Linked DNA regions of Homo sapiens: region 1 is linked to region 2. Evidence: fine-mapped expression QTL. A gene starts in region 2. The other region holds a variant in brackets. All regions are shown on one strand. Distances are between the middles of the regions.

Region 1 (8,323 bases), 32 kb after region 2:
TCCGGCCTCGGCCTCCCAAAGTGCTGGGATTACAGGCATGAGCCACCGCGCCCGGCCTTTCTCAGTATGCTTTCTAAAATGCATTTTACAGTTTATCCTCCTTCTTTTAGAGGTAAGACAGACGCATGCCATAGAATTCAAAAGATTCTAGAGGGTGTTTAGAATAAATACCAGCCACTCCCCAAGCCCCACGCCATCCCCAGAGGCCATTAGTCGGTTTCTTGTTTCTCCTTCCAGCCATGTTCCACGCCAAAACAAGCATGTCTGTATATTTTCTTTTCCCCACGGAAACAACATCACACTCCCCGTACTTTCTTGCAGCTCAGCGTAGTTGACTCCTAACAATGCATCTCGGATCTTTTCTTCGAGTGCAGAACTTCCCCCTCTTTTGTAAGGACAGTGTAATATTCCATCTTGAGGCTGGACCATTGTTCTGGTGAAAGCACATGTCCTGGCCTCCAGTCTTCTGCTACTATACACCGGGCAGCAATGAAGAAATTTTTTTTTTTTTTTTTGAGACGGAGTCTCACTCTGTCACCCAGGCTGGAGTGCAGTGGCACAATCTTGGCTCACTGCAAGCTCCGCCTTCCCTGTTCACACCATCGTCCTGCCTCAGCCTCCCGAGTAGCTGGGACTACAGGTGCCTCCACCACGCCCAGCTAATTTTTTGTATTTTTAGTAGAGACGGGGTTTCACCGTGTTAGCCAGGATGGTCTCGATCTCCTGACCTTGTGATCCGCCTGCCTCGGCCTCCCAAAGTGCTGGGATTACAGGCATGAGCCACCGAGCCCAGCCAAGAAATTGTAATAAATGTCATTTTTGGCTGGATGTGGTGGCTCACGCCTGTAATCCCAGCACTTTGGGAGGCCAAGGTGGGCAGATCACCTGAGCTCAGGAGTTTGAGACCAACCTGGCCAATGTGGTGAAACCCCATCTCTACTAAAAATACAAAAAATTAGCCGGGCATGGTGGCGCATGCCTGTAATCCCAGCTACTTGGGAGGCTGAAACAGAAGAATCACTTGAACCTGGGAGGTGGAGGTTGCAGTGAGCTGAGATCAGGCCATTGCACTCCAGCCTGGGCGACAGAGCAAAACTCCATCTAAAAAAAAAAAAAAAGTTCATAGTTGACATGAGGGTTCACTCTTGGTGTTGTATGCATATGTTCTGTGGGTTTGGATGAATGTGTAATGACATATGTCTACCATTTAACAGTATCATGCAGAGTAGTTTCACTACCCTAAAAATCCACTGTGCTCTGCCTGTTCGTCCCTTCCTCCCCCAGCCCCTGACAGCCACTGACCTTTTCACCGTCTCCATAGTTTTCCTCTTTCGGGAATATTCTGTAGCTAGAATCATACAGTGTGTCACCTTTTCAAATGGGCTTCTTTCACTCAGTAATATGCATTGAAGGGCTGGGCGTGTTGGCTCACGCCTGTAATCCCAGCACCTTGGCAGGCGGAGGGAGGCCTGAAGTCAGGAGTTTGAGACCAGCCTGGCCAAGATGATAAAACCCCATCTCTACTAAATATACAAAAATTAGCCAGGTGTGGTGGCCAGCGCCTGTTATCTCAGCTACTCAGGAGGTTGAGGCAGGAGAATCGCTTGAACCCAGGGAGTGGGGGAGAGTTTGCAGTGAGCCAAGATTGTGCCACTGCACTCCAGCCTGGGCAACAAGAGCGAAACTCCGTCTCAAAAAAAAAATGCATTTAAGGTTCCTCTGTGTCTTTTCATGGCTTGACAGCTCATTTCTTTTTAGCACTGAATTTTATATTTTATATAGATATAGATATAGATATATAGATATAGATATAGATGGAGTCTTCCTCTTTCACCCAGGCTGGAGTGCAGTGGCGCGATCTCAGCTCACTGCAATGTCTGCTTGGGTTCAAGAGATTCTCCTGCCTCCTGAATAGCTGGGACTACAGGTTCGTGCCGCCACGCCCAGCTAATTTTTGTATTTTTAGTAGAGACAGGGTTTCCCCATGTTGACCAGGCTGGTCTCGAACTCCTGACCTTAGGTAATCTGCCCGCCCCTGCCTCCCAAAGTGCTAGGATTACAGCCGTGAGCCACCGTGCCCAGCCTGAATAAAATTTTGTCATCTGAGCACACCACAGTGTTCTTACCCATTCTCCTGCTGAAGGACATCTTGGCTGCTTCCCAATCTTGGCAACTGTGAATAATGCTGCTGTAAACATCTGTGTGCAGGTTTTTGTGTGGATGTTAGGTTTTCAGCTCCTTTGGGTAAATACCTAGGAGTACCATTTCTAGGTCTCATCCTAAGAGTATGTTTAGTTTTATAAGAAACTGCCAAACTGTTCCAAAGCGGCTGTACCATTCTGCATTCTCACCGGCAATGAATGACACTCCCTGTTGCTCCCTGTCCTCAGGGGTTCGGGGCATTTGGGGTTGCTGTTGGCAGGGCTTTGGATTTGGCCATTCTAATAGGGGTGTAGGGACATTTTTTTTCTTTTTTTTTTTTTCTTTTTTGAGACAGAGTTTCATTCTTGTCGCCCAGGCTGGAGTGCAATGGTGCGATCTCAGCTCACCGCAACCTCTGCCTCCTGGGTTCAAGCGATTCTCCTGCCTCAGACTCGTGAGTAGCTGGGATTACAGGCATGCGCCACCATGCCTGGCTAATTTTGTATTTTTTAGTAGAGATGGTGTTTCTCCATGTTGGTCAGGCTGGTCTCAAACTCCCGACCTCAGGTGATCTGCCCGTCTCAGCTTCCCAAAGTGCTGGGATTACAGGCGTGAGCCATCATACCTGGCCGTTTCTTTTTTTCTTTTTTTTTCTTTTTTTTTCTTTTTTGAGGCAGAATCTCACTCTGTTGACCAGGCCGGAGTGCAATGGCGTGATCTCGGCTCACTGCAACCTCCACCTCCTGAGTAGCTGGGACTACAGGTGTGTGCCATCACACCCAGTTAATTTTTGTATTTTTAGTAGAGATGGGGTTTTTCCAGTTTGGCCAGGATGGTCTCGATCTCTTGACCTCGTGATCTGCCCGCCTTGGCCTCCCAAAGTGCTGGGATTACAGATGTTAGTCACCGCACCCAGCCTTGTCTGTTTGTTTGTTTTTTAAGAGACAGGATCCCCCTTTGTCATCCAGGCTAGAGTGCCCAAGAGAGAGGAACAACATGTGTGATAGCTCAGAGGAGAGACAGAAAGGGGAGTGGCTAAGAGCATGGAAGAGTACGAGGTTCTAGATCCTTCTCTGGGTGTCAGTTTCCACTCCTTAGCCGTGAGCCACTCTCTTGAGCAAGTCTGGCAGATGGGAAGCTGGAAGGTCAAGGCTGGGGCATCCATCCTACCCCTGCCTGGATATGGGGAGGCAGGAGTGCCAGAGCAGCCCCCTCTGCGTCTGGGGGGCCCAGCAGGACCCCGTCCAGGTGGAGATTGGGAAGGGTGAAGGCATCCAGAGGTGCTTCCCTGGACTCCTGCCTCGACAGGAAAGGAAATGGCAGGGTGGGGGTGGCAGAAGTCTGTTTCCCGCCCCTGCCCCAAATTGGATGCTTCCTGCCCCAGGCCAGCTCCTTGGTGGGCCGGGACCCCTTTCCCACCCATTACTGCCTCTCTAATGGGGGCCTCACCCCCATTAGTGAGGCCGCCCACTGCAAGCCTGGGAGTCCCAGGTGTTCCCAGCCCACACTCCCCCTGCCGAGTGACCGTTAAAGATGAATAATGAGCCTGGCAGGAGGGACCTGGGAGGTGGTGATGAGGGGCTGGCCCAGCGGGTGAGGGCCAGGGAGGCCCCGAAGCCTCCTCCATCTGGCTGGTCCCGGAGGCACCTGGGAAGCCCATTAGGAAGGCGTCGCGTCCTGGAAGCCACCTGAGCGCCTGGTGTGGCTCTGATTTCACCTCCTTAATGCCTGCCTTTGCTCTTAGCACCTGCCCGCTACAGGGACTGCCCCCCACCCCCACCCAGCTGAAGTCATCAGAGTTAGCAAATAAAAATCCAAGACATCCAGTTAAGTTTGGATTTCAGATAGATCATGAATCACGGCTTGGCGTAAGTATATCCCATGCAATTCTTGGGATATACTTACAGCATCATTCATTCCTTTTTTTTTTTTTTTTTTTTGAGATGGAGTTTTGTTCTGTTGCCCATGCTGGAGTCCGGTGGCGCGATCCTGGCTCACTGCAACCTCCACCTCCCAGGTTCAAGCGATTCTCATGCCTCAGCCTCCCAAAGTGCTGGGATTATAGGCATGAGCAACTGCACTGGTCTGGAGTGGATCTTTTTTTTAATTTTTTTTTTTAATTTTTTTGAGACAGAGTCTCGCTCTGTCGCCCAGGCTGGAGTGCAGAGGCACAATCTCAGCTCACTGCAACCTCTGCCTCCCGGGTTCAAGTGATTCTTCTACCTCAGCCTCCTGAGTAGCTGGGATTACAGATGCACGTCACCACGCCCAGCTAATTTTTGTGGAGTGGATGTATTTTAATATCTCACCATCTGCACGAGGTTTCCACAGCCCACCAGCCCTGTCCCCGCCCCCTCCTTGACCCTTCCCTGGCTCAATGAGGGTGTTTTAGGTCCCCAGCAGGTCACTGGCACAGCAGGCATCTCTTGGAATTTGCACAAAAAGACCCAAAGTTACTGTAACTCTGGAAACCTCTGGAGAGGTCCCTAGGGGAGAGTGA[A/G]TGAGGGGCCGCATGCCCGCCTCCGCCAAGGACTCATCGCTCAGGGTCTCTTTCATCTCCCCTGGCTTTCAGGGAGACCTCCAGGTGAGAACACACTCCCTGAATCCCAGGTTCGAGTCCTGACTCTGCTGCTTTTGAGTTTTGTGGCTATCAGCCTCCCTTTTTCTCGGTGCCTTGGTTTCCTCACCTGCAAAATGGGGATAAATCACAATGCCATTACTGATAGCAGCTGTCGGGGTTGTTGAGAGGACCACGTGCATTGATTTCTTCAAGGAGCTTTGTCCGGCATACAGCGCTCACTTAAGTGATGGCCGGGGCCCCAGCCTCCCTCCTGGCCCAGGGGGAGGGGCTGAGCGGGAAGTGGAGGTTAATTTTAGCCCTGATGACACCCGCTGGCCGCCTGCCTTGTCCAAACATCCCCAGCCAGGCGTGAGGTTCAAAGTGTCCCCCCACCCCCAGCCTCTGACATCCAAGGAGCCTGTTTATTCATTCTCGTCTGCGGCAGCATTCTTTGCCTGCCTGTGCCTGCCACCCGGCCTCCTCCATCTCCAGCCCTGCGAGGTCCTGCCCTGTGTCACTGGGGGTGAGGACTACCTCACCTGCAGATTCCCCTGAGGCAGGCTGTAATCTCTGGGGTGGTCGGTGGGGGGTGGGGAAGGGGCAGGGGGAGGGTCACTCCTGCCCCAGAGTCCAAAGATCTTCAGTCTTCGTTTATAATTCTCCAAGTGGGAGTTCAAGCTTCCATCACAGACAAGGACATTTATTCAGCACCTGTTTACTGAGTGCCTACTGGGTGCCAGGTCATACTGGGGACCCAAGCCCTGCCCCATGAGCCGCCCAATCTGGGGAAGACACTGACAAACCAAGAAATAAACAAGATCTTTTTTTTTTTTGAGACGGAATTTCACTCTTGTTGCCCAGGCTGGAGTGCAATGGCACAATCTCGGCTCACCACAACCTCCACCTCCCGGGTTCAAGTGATTCTCCTGCCTCAGTCTCCTGAGTAGCTGGGATTACAGGCGTGCACCACCACGCCCGGCTAATTTTGTATTTTTAGTAGAGAGAGGGTTTCTCCATGTTGCGGGGAGTGTATGGAGACGCCACCTTGGGAAGAGATGCGCCAGAATTTGCAGTCCTCTCCCTCCCTGTTGGAGTACCCTGGAGGATAGAAATTTTTCCCTACCCGGAGTCTCAGAATGTTCCAAAGACCTCAACTGGTCTCAAACTCCCAACTTCAGGAAGTCCCCCCACCTTGACCTCCCAAAGTGCTGGGATTATAGGCCTGAGCCACCGCGCCTCACCAATTTTTTTTTTTTTTTTTTTTTTGAGACGGAGTCTCTTGCCCAGGCTGTAGTGCAGTGGCGCGATCTCAGCTCACTGCAACCTCCGCCTCCCAGGTTCGTGCAATTCTTGAGCCTCAGCCTCCCAAGTAGCTGGGATTACAGGCGCTCACCATCCCGCCCAGCTAATTTTTCTATTTTGAGTAGAGACAGGGTTTCACTGTGTTGGCCAGACTGGTCTCGAACTCCTTACCTCGTGATCCACCCACCTCAGCCTCCCAAAGTGCTGGGATTACAGGCGTGAGCCCCTGTGCCTGGCCTATTTATTTTCGCTTATTTATTTATTTATTGAGTGAGTGAGTGAGACAGAGTTTTGCTCCGTCGCCCAGACTGGAGAGCAGTGGCGTGATCTCATCTTACTGCAACCTCCACCTCCAACCTCCACCTCCTGGGTTCAGGTGATTCTCCTGCCTCATCCTCATGAGTAGCTGGGATTACAGGCACCCACCACCATGCCCAGCTCATTTTTTGTAAGGCTCTGCCCTTGTTCTGAAGTCAAATCTCAACACTGTCTCCCTCTGGGAGGGGGAGTGACCAGAGGCTACAGCTGGGCTGAGGGACTGAGTGGCTGCAGGTGGATACCAAATATAAATTGAGGTCTTTGGAACATTCTCAGAGTCTGGGTAGGGGAAAATTTCTACTCTTCAGAGAACGCCAACAGGGACAGAGTGGACCGTAACTCCTGGTGCATCTTCCCAAGGTGAGTGGCATCTCCATACACTCCCTGCAGGGCTGGCCCAGGTGCCCAGGTCGCTGGCTCTACTGGCTGTAATTTTTGCCGATGGAGAGACAGGTGCTTAGAAACCTTGAAAACATCGCCTGAAAACAAACCAAGAAAATTATGCTTTTTGGCCCGGTGCGGTGGCTCACTGCTGTAATCCTAGCACTTTGGGAGGCCAAGACAGACTGATCACGAGGTCAGGAGATTGAGACCATCCTGGCTAACACGGTGAAACCCCATCTCTACTAAAAATACAAAAAATTAGCTAGGCGTCGTGGCGCGTGCCTGTAATTCCAGCTACTCGGGAGGCTGAGACAGGAGAATCACTTGAACCCAGGAGGCGGAGGTTGCAGTGGGCTGAGATTGTGCCACTGCACTCCAGCCTGGGCAGGCGACAGAGGGAGACTCCGTCTGGAAAAAAAAAAAAAAAGGAAAGAAAATTATACTTTTCACCTCCAGGTTCCAACAGACCACCTCCTAACCGTTTTCGTTCTCGGAAATACCTTCATTGGGCCGGGTGTGGTGGCTCACGCCTGTAATCTCAGCACTTTGGGATGCCGAGGCGGGCAGATCACTTGAGGTCCGGAGTTCGAGAACAGCCTGGCCAACATAGTGAAACACCATCTCTACTTAAAATACAAAATTTAGCTGGGCGTGGTGGCGGGCATCTGTAATCCCAGCTACTCGGGAGGCTGAGGCATGAGAATTGCTTGAACTCGGTAGTGGGAGGTTGCAGTGAGTCGAGATCGCACCACAGCACTCCAGCCTGGGCGATGGAGCAAGACTCAGTCTCAGAAAGAAAGAAAGAAAGAAAATACCTCCATTAGCTTTTCTGATTCTAAAATTGCCACTCGCACACTTCACAAAACCTTTCCAGAATGAGAGAAAGGCCTCTTTGTTCCCCGGCCCCATGTATTCCCTGGAATTTTCTCTCCCCGGGCAGGGAGGTAAATGCTATTGTTATTTTTTCACACACAAGGTTTTGCAATGGGCTTTATTTCCACTCCACAATAGATGGCCCCACAGCTTTTATTTCTAGAAATTGGAAAATGAAGCGTGTCCAGCCCCCGCCTCTTCACCCACCACAGGCTGAAATTTAAGCTGCATGAACCCAGCTGGGCCTGGGTACCAGGGGTGGGCAGACCTCAGCGTGTTGGTGCCAGGGGACCCGGGGGTGAGGCCAGGGTCAGGTTTCTAGGGGGTGCCAGGTTTCTGTCACCGTCACCTGGGGCTTCCCGCACTCCCTGTCTGTTTAGTGGCCCCAGCACCATGTAGATGAGCAGGGAGAGGCTGAGTTCTTACAAGTATTACAGGAGGGGAAACCGAGGCCCGCAGAGGGCCAGGGACCCAGGCCAAACATTCCAGCCTGTAGAGGGGGTACGCAGAGACCCTGTGGGGCGGTGGGAGGATCAGCGTGACCTTCCAGGTCACCTCAACCTCCTGAAGAAGGTGCCGGCAGTGGCTCCACTCTACAGAGGAGGTGGCTGACGCCCAGAGAAGTTGAGGAACTCATCCAAGGCCACACAGCTGCCAGAGGTGAAAGTCGGTTTTCTGAAGATCTCAGGGTCAAGAACTCCAAAGTCAGGCAAGTCCCCCATAGAGCCCTGCTCCACCACTTAG
Region 2 (8,311 bases):
TCTGGGATATTCCCAGCCACCTGGGAGTGGTGGCATCCTTTCGGGGAGAGGCCGGCAGGCCCAGGGCCAATGGCCTCCCCACAAGGCCTTGTGGCAGTGTCACCTCTGAACCTTGGGACTTGGCACTTGTGTTCTGCAGAAGGCAGGAGGGGGTAGGACTGGGGTCCGGGGGTCTCATACCCTCCTCCCTTCCCAGGCCAGCTCCAAGGACACAGGTCAGTTGTATGCAGCCCTGCACCACCGCATCCTGGCCCTGCGCAGCCGCGTGGAGCAGGAGCAGGAGGCCAAGATGCCCGCGCCTGAGCCTGGGGCAGCCCCATCCAACGAGGAGGACGACAGCGACGATGACGATGTCCTGGCTCCTTCAGGGGCCACCGCAGCTGGTGAGTCGGGTGGTCCCTACCCTGGGGGGGATAGAAAGAGCTGCCCGCCATCCTTGATCCAGTGCTGATCTCCTGGCGGGGGTGGCCAGACCTGGGAAGTGCGGGCTCCATCCTGATGCGGGGCTGCTGCTTCCCTGCAGGTGCTGGTGACGAAGGGGACGGGCAGACGACCGGGAGCACATAGCGGCCGGGAGCCCGGCTGCACACCAGGCTGCTGCTTTGTCCGTCTATCCACCCGCCCACCCGCCCCCACCCCACCGGCAGCGTCCAGGTGCGGGGCCGGGAACCACACACCCCACTGGGCCGGCCACAGTCTGGACCCGCACGTCCTGTTCAAAAGCAGACTCGGGAACTGCCTGAATGTGGTTTGGGACACGAGACCTCATCATATTGATGAGCGAACAAACAAGAACATTTCCTCCCTCCCCTCCTTTGAATTGAAATGGCACATTAAGACTTGTCACGGCTTCTCACTGGGACTGGAGACCTCGTTCCTTCACCCCGCGTGTCGCCAGCCTCTGGGTCCAGCCAGAGCCCCTGGCTTCTCCGCCACCCACACCCTTCCCACCCTGCTGTGGGGCCCTGCCTTTGTGGGGAGCAGCCAGCCCTCTGCCCCTGCCCAGGGCTCCCCAACTATAGGCCTGGGACCCCCGCCCAGCTTGGGGGGCTGCTCGTACGAGTGTAGACACTGGGCCCATTGGACGTGCTGTTAACTACTATCTTCATTTCCCACTTCCCCTCTCTGATTGGGGGTGTATATTTTACATCTTTTTTTCTTTTTATTTTCGAAGGCTTTGTTTTGGTTTCTTAGGTTAAGATGCTCTCGAGCGTTGAGCAGGCACAGCTCTGTCGAGGTCCCTGTCCCCCACCTGTGGTTCTGGCCTCTGAGGTTGGGGGACTACTTGTTTCCCACCCCAGGTTCCTCCAGGCCAAGTCATGGGGTGATGAGGAGTTGGGGCCCTGTCTGTCCTAGGCCTGGAGAGTGCCTGTCTGGGAAAAGGTCACTGGACCTGGAAGGGTCCCCAGGGTCCCCTGACTCCCGTCTCCATCTGTCACGTGGTTCACCATCATCAGGCACCAGGCGCAAACTGCTTCCCGCTGTTGGCCATCCCTTCCCCAGCCACAGGTGTCCCTGCCCCCAGGACAGTCCAGGGCCAGGGGCTTCTGTGAGAGGCAGAGGGGGACCCTCACCAAATCTTGGTGGAAGAGCCCAGGGGCTGGTCCCAGAACAGGCAGTCTCACAAGCACGCAGCACACTGGAGTGGACGCCTGTGCCCACCCGAGCCTGGAGCATGGCCAAGAGCCAGCTTGCACCACCCACCTGGGAGGCCGAGGAGGAGGTCCCCTGGGCACAGGGCCTCTTTGGGACTTCAGAGGAAATCTCCCAGTCCCACTCTCGGAGGGTTAAGAGAAGGCCTCCTGCAGCTGTGCCGTCCACACCTCTAGGTCGCCAGAGCCCTGGCCCCCAGCCCCCAGCAAGCCTGAGCCCGGGAAGAACCAGAGGCCCTCCCGAGAGACCCAGTCACACGTCTCTGCTTTAAGCCTTAGCCAGCTAGTGACGAGTACAACGAGATAACGCCCATGTGTTTTGGAACATTTATGTAAGATTGTCATATGAAATGTATTTGGGAACTACATTAAACTTTTAACTAAAACCCTGGCCTCTGCATGCCCCAGGGGCCTCAGGAAGCCCCTGACCAGGAACGGCCTCCACCTCCCCGGGCGAGGACCTCCAGCAGCCTGGGGCCTCATGCTCCCACCCAGCGTGTCACCAGTGCTGGGGTCCAGCCACAGCCCTGTTCTCTCCACCACCACCCGCACTTTACCCCCACCCCTGCTGCAAGGCCCCGCCGGTCTGCCCCCGCCCAGAGCTCCCAGCCTCGGGCCGCTCACCAGAATGTAGATACTGGGCCCGCTGGACATGTTACCTGCTATTTTTATTCCCCATTTGCCATCTTCTGATTGGGGGTTGATGTTTTACAGATTTTTTTTTCAAAGGCTTTATTTCAGTTTCTGAGGTTAGGATGCCCCTGTGCCCCTCGCTCCACACCTGGGCAGGTCTAAACTTCCTTCCAGGATGGCCTCCACACACAGCCTCCCACCTGGGGTCACCTGGCTTCCTGGGGGACCCGCAAGGGAGGGGCAGGGAGCAGCAGTCCGGGTGCGGGGATCGGGGGACCTCGGCGGGGGCATCCACAGGGGCTGCAAGATCTCTGGTCAGCATGGCGTGGGTGGGGAGAGCGTTTCTCCCTGGGGTCCTGAGCCAGTGACTCCTGTTAGGACCTTTGTCCCACCTCCGCCTGGTGGACCGGCAGGGACCTGGTCTAGCCAGTCCTGCAGCCTCCATTCCCCCACCTGCCCCTCCCCGCTCTGTGGTGTGGCTGCCCAGGAGAGAAGGGGCCCAGGGAAGGGAGGTCTCCGGCAGGGGTGGGGAGTGACAGGCCAGGGCAGCAGGGCTGAGCCGGAGCTGCTCACAGCTGCCAGGCACTGGTCATCATGGCCACGAACTCCTCATCCGTGTTCATGGAGGCACTCACGCCGCTGTAGTAGTCCTGGAATTCCGCCAGTGTGACCTGGGAACAGAGGGCCGTGAGGGGGCACGGCCGAGGAACTGCCTGGGGAGGGGGCCCCCCGCGCAGCCACCCACCTGCCCGTCCTTCTCAGAGGAGTCGAAGTTGTCCAGGAAGCGGCGCAGCACCTCGTCCTCGGTCCACTCCCCACTGCGCACCTTGGGGTGGGCACGGCCACTGTACACCCCGCGGAGGTCGTCCACCGTCACGACGCCGTCCCCACTGCGGTCCAGCTTGGCAAATGCAGCTGCGATGACAGCCTCCCGGGCCTGGGACATGGGGGGCTGGGACAGGAGGTGGTGACTGGGGGTGGTGGGTAGCACACCCAAACCCCCAAGACGCTGTGCAGAGCACTGGGGCTGTATGCCCCAGCAGGCGCCTCTTAACAGCAGCTCTTAGGGAGGAGTCCCCGTCTCCGCATCTCAGCATCCTCTGTCGCCCCATGCCCAGGGCACACGCCTTGACTGTGAGGTGGGGGCTCACCCGCAGCGCCCGAAGGAACTCCTCCAGATCCAGCGTCCCGCTGCCATTGCGGTCCCACTTCCTGCACACACCCTCTGCCTCCGCCTGGTCCAGCACCAGCCCGAGTTTGGCCAGACCCTGCCGGAACTCATCAGCGTCCAGGGATCTGCTCCCGTCCCGGTCTAGTTGGCGGAAAAACCTGGAGGCAGGGGACACGGTTGGAACAGTGGTCTCAGGGGCCGGGGTCAGGAAGGTGAGAGGGGACAGCTCACCTGGCCAGGCCCTGGATGCCCGAGGCCCCGCGGGACAGGCACTGTGCCCGGAGTTTCTCCATGGTGGCATCCACGGCGTCCATGCTTGGTCTGGGCTCTGGGCAGCTGGAAGGGAGAGAGGTCAAGGTGGGGACTCCCGCAAGCCCACCCTGGCCGACTGCCCCTTGTTCAGATGCTCACCTGGCCTGCGTCTGTCCCAGAGTCCTGCCTGCGGGGCCTTGTGTTAGCTGTGTTGTGCCTGGGGAGACTGTTGCTAGTGGAAGGTGCCTCTGGAGATGGGGTGGGGCCCAGCTGCATGAATGCACTGTGCTGGGCAGTGGGGAGTGGGGGAGGGATGGGTGCGCCCAGCCTGACTGCTTACTCAACTGCCAGCCCCACAGGGCCTGGGACAGAGCCAGATCCCTGTGGCACTGCATCCCTTCCTGGCTCCAAGGAGGAGGGGCAGGCCACTGCCCTGCAGGGGCTGAAATGCCCTGGATGGAGACAAGTCCGTGGCTGGGGAGGCTTGACGCATGATTCCTGTGTGACCCTGGACAGGTCCCTTTCCCTCTCTGGCTTCACAGGGGCTTCTCAGCCCGAGCCAGGGCTGACAAAATTGCTGAGGAATCAAAGTTCAAAAGGGCCCCAGGTTCTGACCGGCCACTGCGGCTCATGCCTGAAATCCCAGCACTTTGGGAGGTCTAGGTGGGAGGATCACTTGAGCCCAGGAGTTTGGACCAGCCTGGGGAACATATAGAGAACTTGTTTCTATTGTACAGCAACAAAAATGCCCCAGGTGGGCTGGGCGCGGTGGCTCATGCCTGTAATCCCAGCACTTTGGGAGGCCGAGGTGGGCAGATCACAAGGTGAGGAGTTTGAGACCAGCCTGACCAACATGGTGAAACCCCGCCTCTACTAAAAATACAAAAATTAGCCGTGCATGATGGTGGGCGCCTGTAATCCGAGCTACTTAGGAAGCTGAGGCAGGAGAATCGCTTGAACCCAGGAGGTGGAGCTTGCAGTGAGCCAAGATTGCACCACTGCACTCCAGTCTGGGCGACAGAGCAAGACTCCATCTCAAAAAGAAAAAAAAAAAAAAAGCCCCAGGTGGCCCAGGTCCTGGGGCCCTAAGACCTCCCACCCAGGCCCACCTCCAAGGGCAGGTCCTGCAACCCACAGAGACTGAGCTGAGCCTGAGGGACACCTCTGCTCACTGCCACAAAGCTTGTCACTGGCCGTTGTTAGGAGCCAGTCCCAGGATTTCTGTCTTTACGGATCTTTTGTTGTTGGTTTTCAGGCCTGAAACGTGACTTAGTGGGCTGGCTCCTGACAAGGTGGTGAGCCAGAGGTTGTGACCCCGAGTGGAAGAGCAGCCCTGATCCTGGACATAAACCTCAAGAGACGAAGCCACCTCACTGAAGGCCTTCAACGGAGACATCGGATATACCTGCCCGCTAAGATAGGTGGGTTTTCCAGGACTTGAAACGTGGGCCCTGTTTGAGGACCCACTGTTCGCCCCGACCCAAGGATCATCAATCGGAGCCTTCTCCAAGCCTGGCTTTACCTCGCTCACAGCACAATTATATTGTCAGAAGTTGCCTTGCCTGAGCGCGGTGGCTCATGCCTGTAATCCCAACACTTTGGGAAGCCAGGGCAGGAAGATCACTTGAGCCCAGGAGTTTGAGACCCGCCTGTGCAACATAGTGAGACCCCCCCATCTCTACAAAAACTACAAAAAATTAGCCAGGCATGGTGGTGTGTTCCTGTAATCCCACCTACTTGGAAGGCTGAGGCAGGAGGATCACTTGAGCCCGGGAGTTGGAGGCTGCAGTGAGCTATGATCGCACCACTGCACTCCAGCCTGGGTTACAGAGCAAGACGCCCGCCTCTTAAAAATAAGTAAATAAACTGGCCGGGCACGGTGGCTCACGCCTGTAATCCCAGCACTTTGGGAGGCCGAGGCGGGCAGATCATGAGGTCAGCAGTTCGAGACCAGCCTGGCCAACATGGTGAAACCCTGTCTCTACTATAAATACAAAAATTAGTCAGCCGGGTGCGGTGGCTCATGCCTGTAATCACAGCACTTTGGGAGGCCGAGGCAGACAGATCACCTGAGGTCAGGAGTTTGAGACCAGCCTGGCCAACATGGTGAAACCCTGTCTCTACTTAAAATACGAAAAACTAGCTGGGCGTGGTGGTATGTGCCTGTAATCCCAGCTACTCGGGAGGCTGAGGCAGGAGAATTGCATGAACCTGGGAAGCGGAGGTTGCAGTGAGCCGAGATCGTGCCATTGCACTCCAGACTGGGGGACAAGAGCAAGACTTTGTCTCAAAAAAAAAAAAAGAAAATTAGCCAGGTATGGTGGCGGGTGCCTGTAATCCCACCTACTCCAGAGGCTGAGGCAGGAGAATCACTTGAACCCAGGAGGCAGAGGTTGCAGTGAACCAAGACCATGCCACTGCACCACAGCCTGGGCGACAGAGTGAGACTCTGTCTCAAAAATAAATAAATAACTTAAAAAAAGAGGCCAGGGCTGGGCGCGGTGGCTCACAGCTGTAATCCCAGCACTTTGGGAGGCTGAGGTGGGCGGATCACTTGAGGTCAGGAGTTCAAGACCAGCCTGGCCAACATTTTGAAACCCCATCTCTACTAAAAAAAATAAATAGCTGGGCATGGTGGTGCATGCCTGTAATCCCAGCTACTCAGGAGGCCAAGGCAGGAGAATCACTTGAACCCTGGAGGCAGAGGTTGCAGTGAGCCTAGATCACACCACTGTACTTCAGCCTGGGTGGCAGGGTGGCAGAGCCAGACTCCGTCTCAAAAAAAAAAAAAAAAAAAAGTTGCCTTTGGAGTCTGAAACCAATCTGTAGGTTACAGGCATCCCAGCATCTTGATTCAGGCCACCACTGATGTAACATCATCAGTTTTATGAGAAATCATGGTGACATCTGGCTGCCAAAATCCTGGTGGCTCACTGCAATCCAGAATTATTTAAATAGGCAGAGAAATACTTTCATGTCTATGAGTGTTACAAGCAGCATTTTTTTTTCTGTGTAGAGAACTATAAAATATAACCACTATTACTGAAGTGCTGTTTTGGCATCTCATTTGTAAATGTTTAGTAAGAATTTCTTGGGAGGCCAATGCGGGAGGATCACTTGAGGCCAGGAGTTCAAGACCAGCCTGGGCAATGTAATGAGACCTTATCTCTAGAAAAAATGCAAAAACGCAGCCAGGCATGGTGGCATATGCCCATGGTCCCAGCTACTTGGCAGGCTGAGGTAGCATGATAGCTTGATCCCAGGATTTTTTTTTGAGACGGAGTCTCCCTCTGTCGCCCAAGCTGGAGTGCAGTGGTACAATCTCGGCTCACTACAGCCTCCATCTCCCGGGTTCAAGTGATTCTCCTGCCTCAACCTCCCGAGTATCTGGGATTACAGGCACGCGCCACCACACCCGGTTAATTTTTGTGTTTTTAGTAGAGACGGAGTTTCACCATGTTGGTCAGGCTGGTCTTGAACTCCTGGCCTCAGGTGATCCACCTGCCTTGGCCTCCCAAAGTGCTGAGATTATAGGTGTGAGCCACTGGCCCAGCCAAGACCAGGATTTTGAGGCTGCAGTGAGTTGTGATCACACCATTGCACTCCAGCCTGGGCAACAGTGAGACTTTGTCTCTTTAAAAAAAAAAGAAAGAAAGAAAGAAAACAGAATTTCAGCAATAACTTCCCCCAGAATTGGAAGTGGCCCTGGCCCTCCAGACCCGGAGTGTGTTCCCTTCACACCTCTGGGCCTCTGTTTGTTGTTGTTGTTGTTGTTGTTGTTGTTGTTGTTGTTTTCTTTGAGACTGAGTCTCACTCTGTCTCCCAGGCTGGAGTGCAGTGGTGCAATCTCCACTCACTGCAACCTCCGCCTCCCGGGTTCAGTAGCTGGGATTACAGGCACCCGCCACCAAGCCCGGCTAATTTTAGTATTTTTAGTAGAGACGGGGTTTCACCATGTTGGCCAGGGTGGTCTCGAACTCCTGACCTCAGGTGATCCACCCGCATCCCAAAGTGCTGGGATTACAGGCGTGAGACACCGCGCCCGGCCTGGGCCTCACTTTCCACAGCTGTAAAATGAGGACAAAGCCTGTGTCTACAGGGAAACTCGAAGATTAGATGCAATCGCTGTAGAGAGTGCTTGGCCTACACTCCCTAGATTCTACCTGGCCCAGCAGGACCCTACCAGGAGGCACAAATAACACAGAGGGCCTCCCTCTTGCCCCCAGGCCAGGAAATCATCCGGTTTATTCTTGAGCACAGACAGGCCCCAGCCTGCCTTTCCTTTGTACAAACAACCCCCCTCCTTGTTCATCCAGAGGAGAAAATGGGCCCATTGTTACTGCACTGAGGGGTCACTGTTGCCAGGCAGGCAGGCGGGCGCCATCCTGAAGGCCGTGGGTGGCCTCCGACCTTTCTGGTCTGAAACAGGCTGTGCCCCTCGCCGGTTCCTGGTGTGACAGTTCCTGAGTGAGGAGGTAGGGGAATGGCTGCCGACCAGGCCAGGGTGACAGGCTGGCCCAGAAAGGCACAGGAGTTTTCTCCTTTCCCTGGTTTGACAACAAGCAAAGCACCCTGAATGTCCTGGGCTAAGAAGGACAGCGCA

Alleles and levels. Alleles are on the strand shown, and positions count from the first base shown. SD is a standard deviation of normalised expression in the study named.
In carriers of allele G in region 1, the expression in NK cells of the gene that starts at base 3,923 in region 2 tends to be higher than with A alone (large effect, 0.84 SD a copy in Schmiedel 2018).

The links. PIP is the estimated chance that this variant, and not a neighbour inherited with it, causes the effect. A credible set is the group of variants that fine-mapping cannot tell apart.
Region 1: its variant is the best candidate, but not a certain one, in a credible set for the expression of CAPS in NK cells (Schmiedel 2018, PIP 0.50).

Annotation. Positions count from the first base shown.
Region 1 is chr19:5,877,503-5,885,825 of GRCh38, reverse strand. No RefSeq gene overlaps it. Among named protein-coding and RNA genes, the nearest start is that of FUT5, 11 kb to the right of the region's middle. The variant A/G (reference allele first, on the strand shown) is at 4,643.
Region 2 is chr19:5,909,866-5,918,176 of GRCh38, reverse strand. CAPS (calcyphosine) reads right to left here and starts at 3,923. Exons shown (of 5, transcript NM_004058.5): 1 at 3,868-3,923; 2 at 3,688-3,792; 3 at 3,437-3,614; 4 at 3,031-3,237; 5 at 1,966-2,956. The coding sequence starts at 3,770. The coding sequence ends at 2,855. VMAC (vimentin type intermediate filament associated coiled-coil protein) reads right to left here. Exons shown (of 2, transcript NM_001017921.4): 2 at 7,324-8,311. It overlaps RANBP3 (RAN binding protein 3), which reads left to right. Exons shown (of 17, transcript NM_007322.3): 16 at 197-383; 17 at 524-2,038. The coding sequence ends at 567.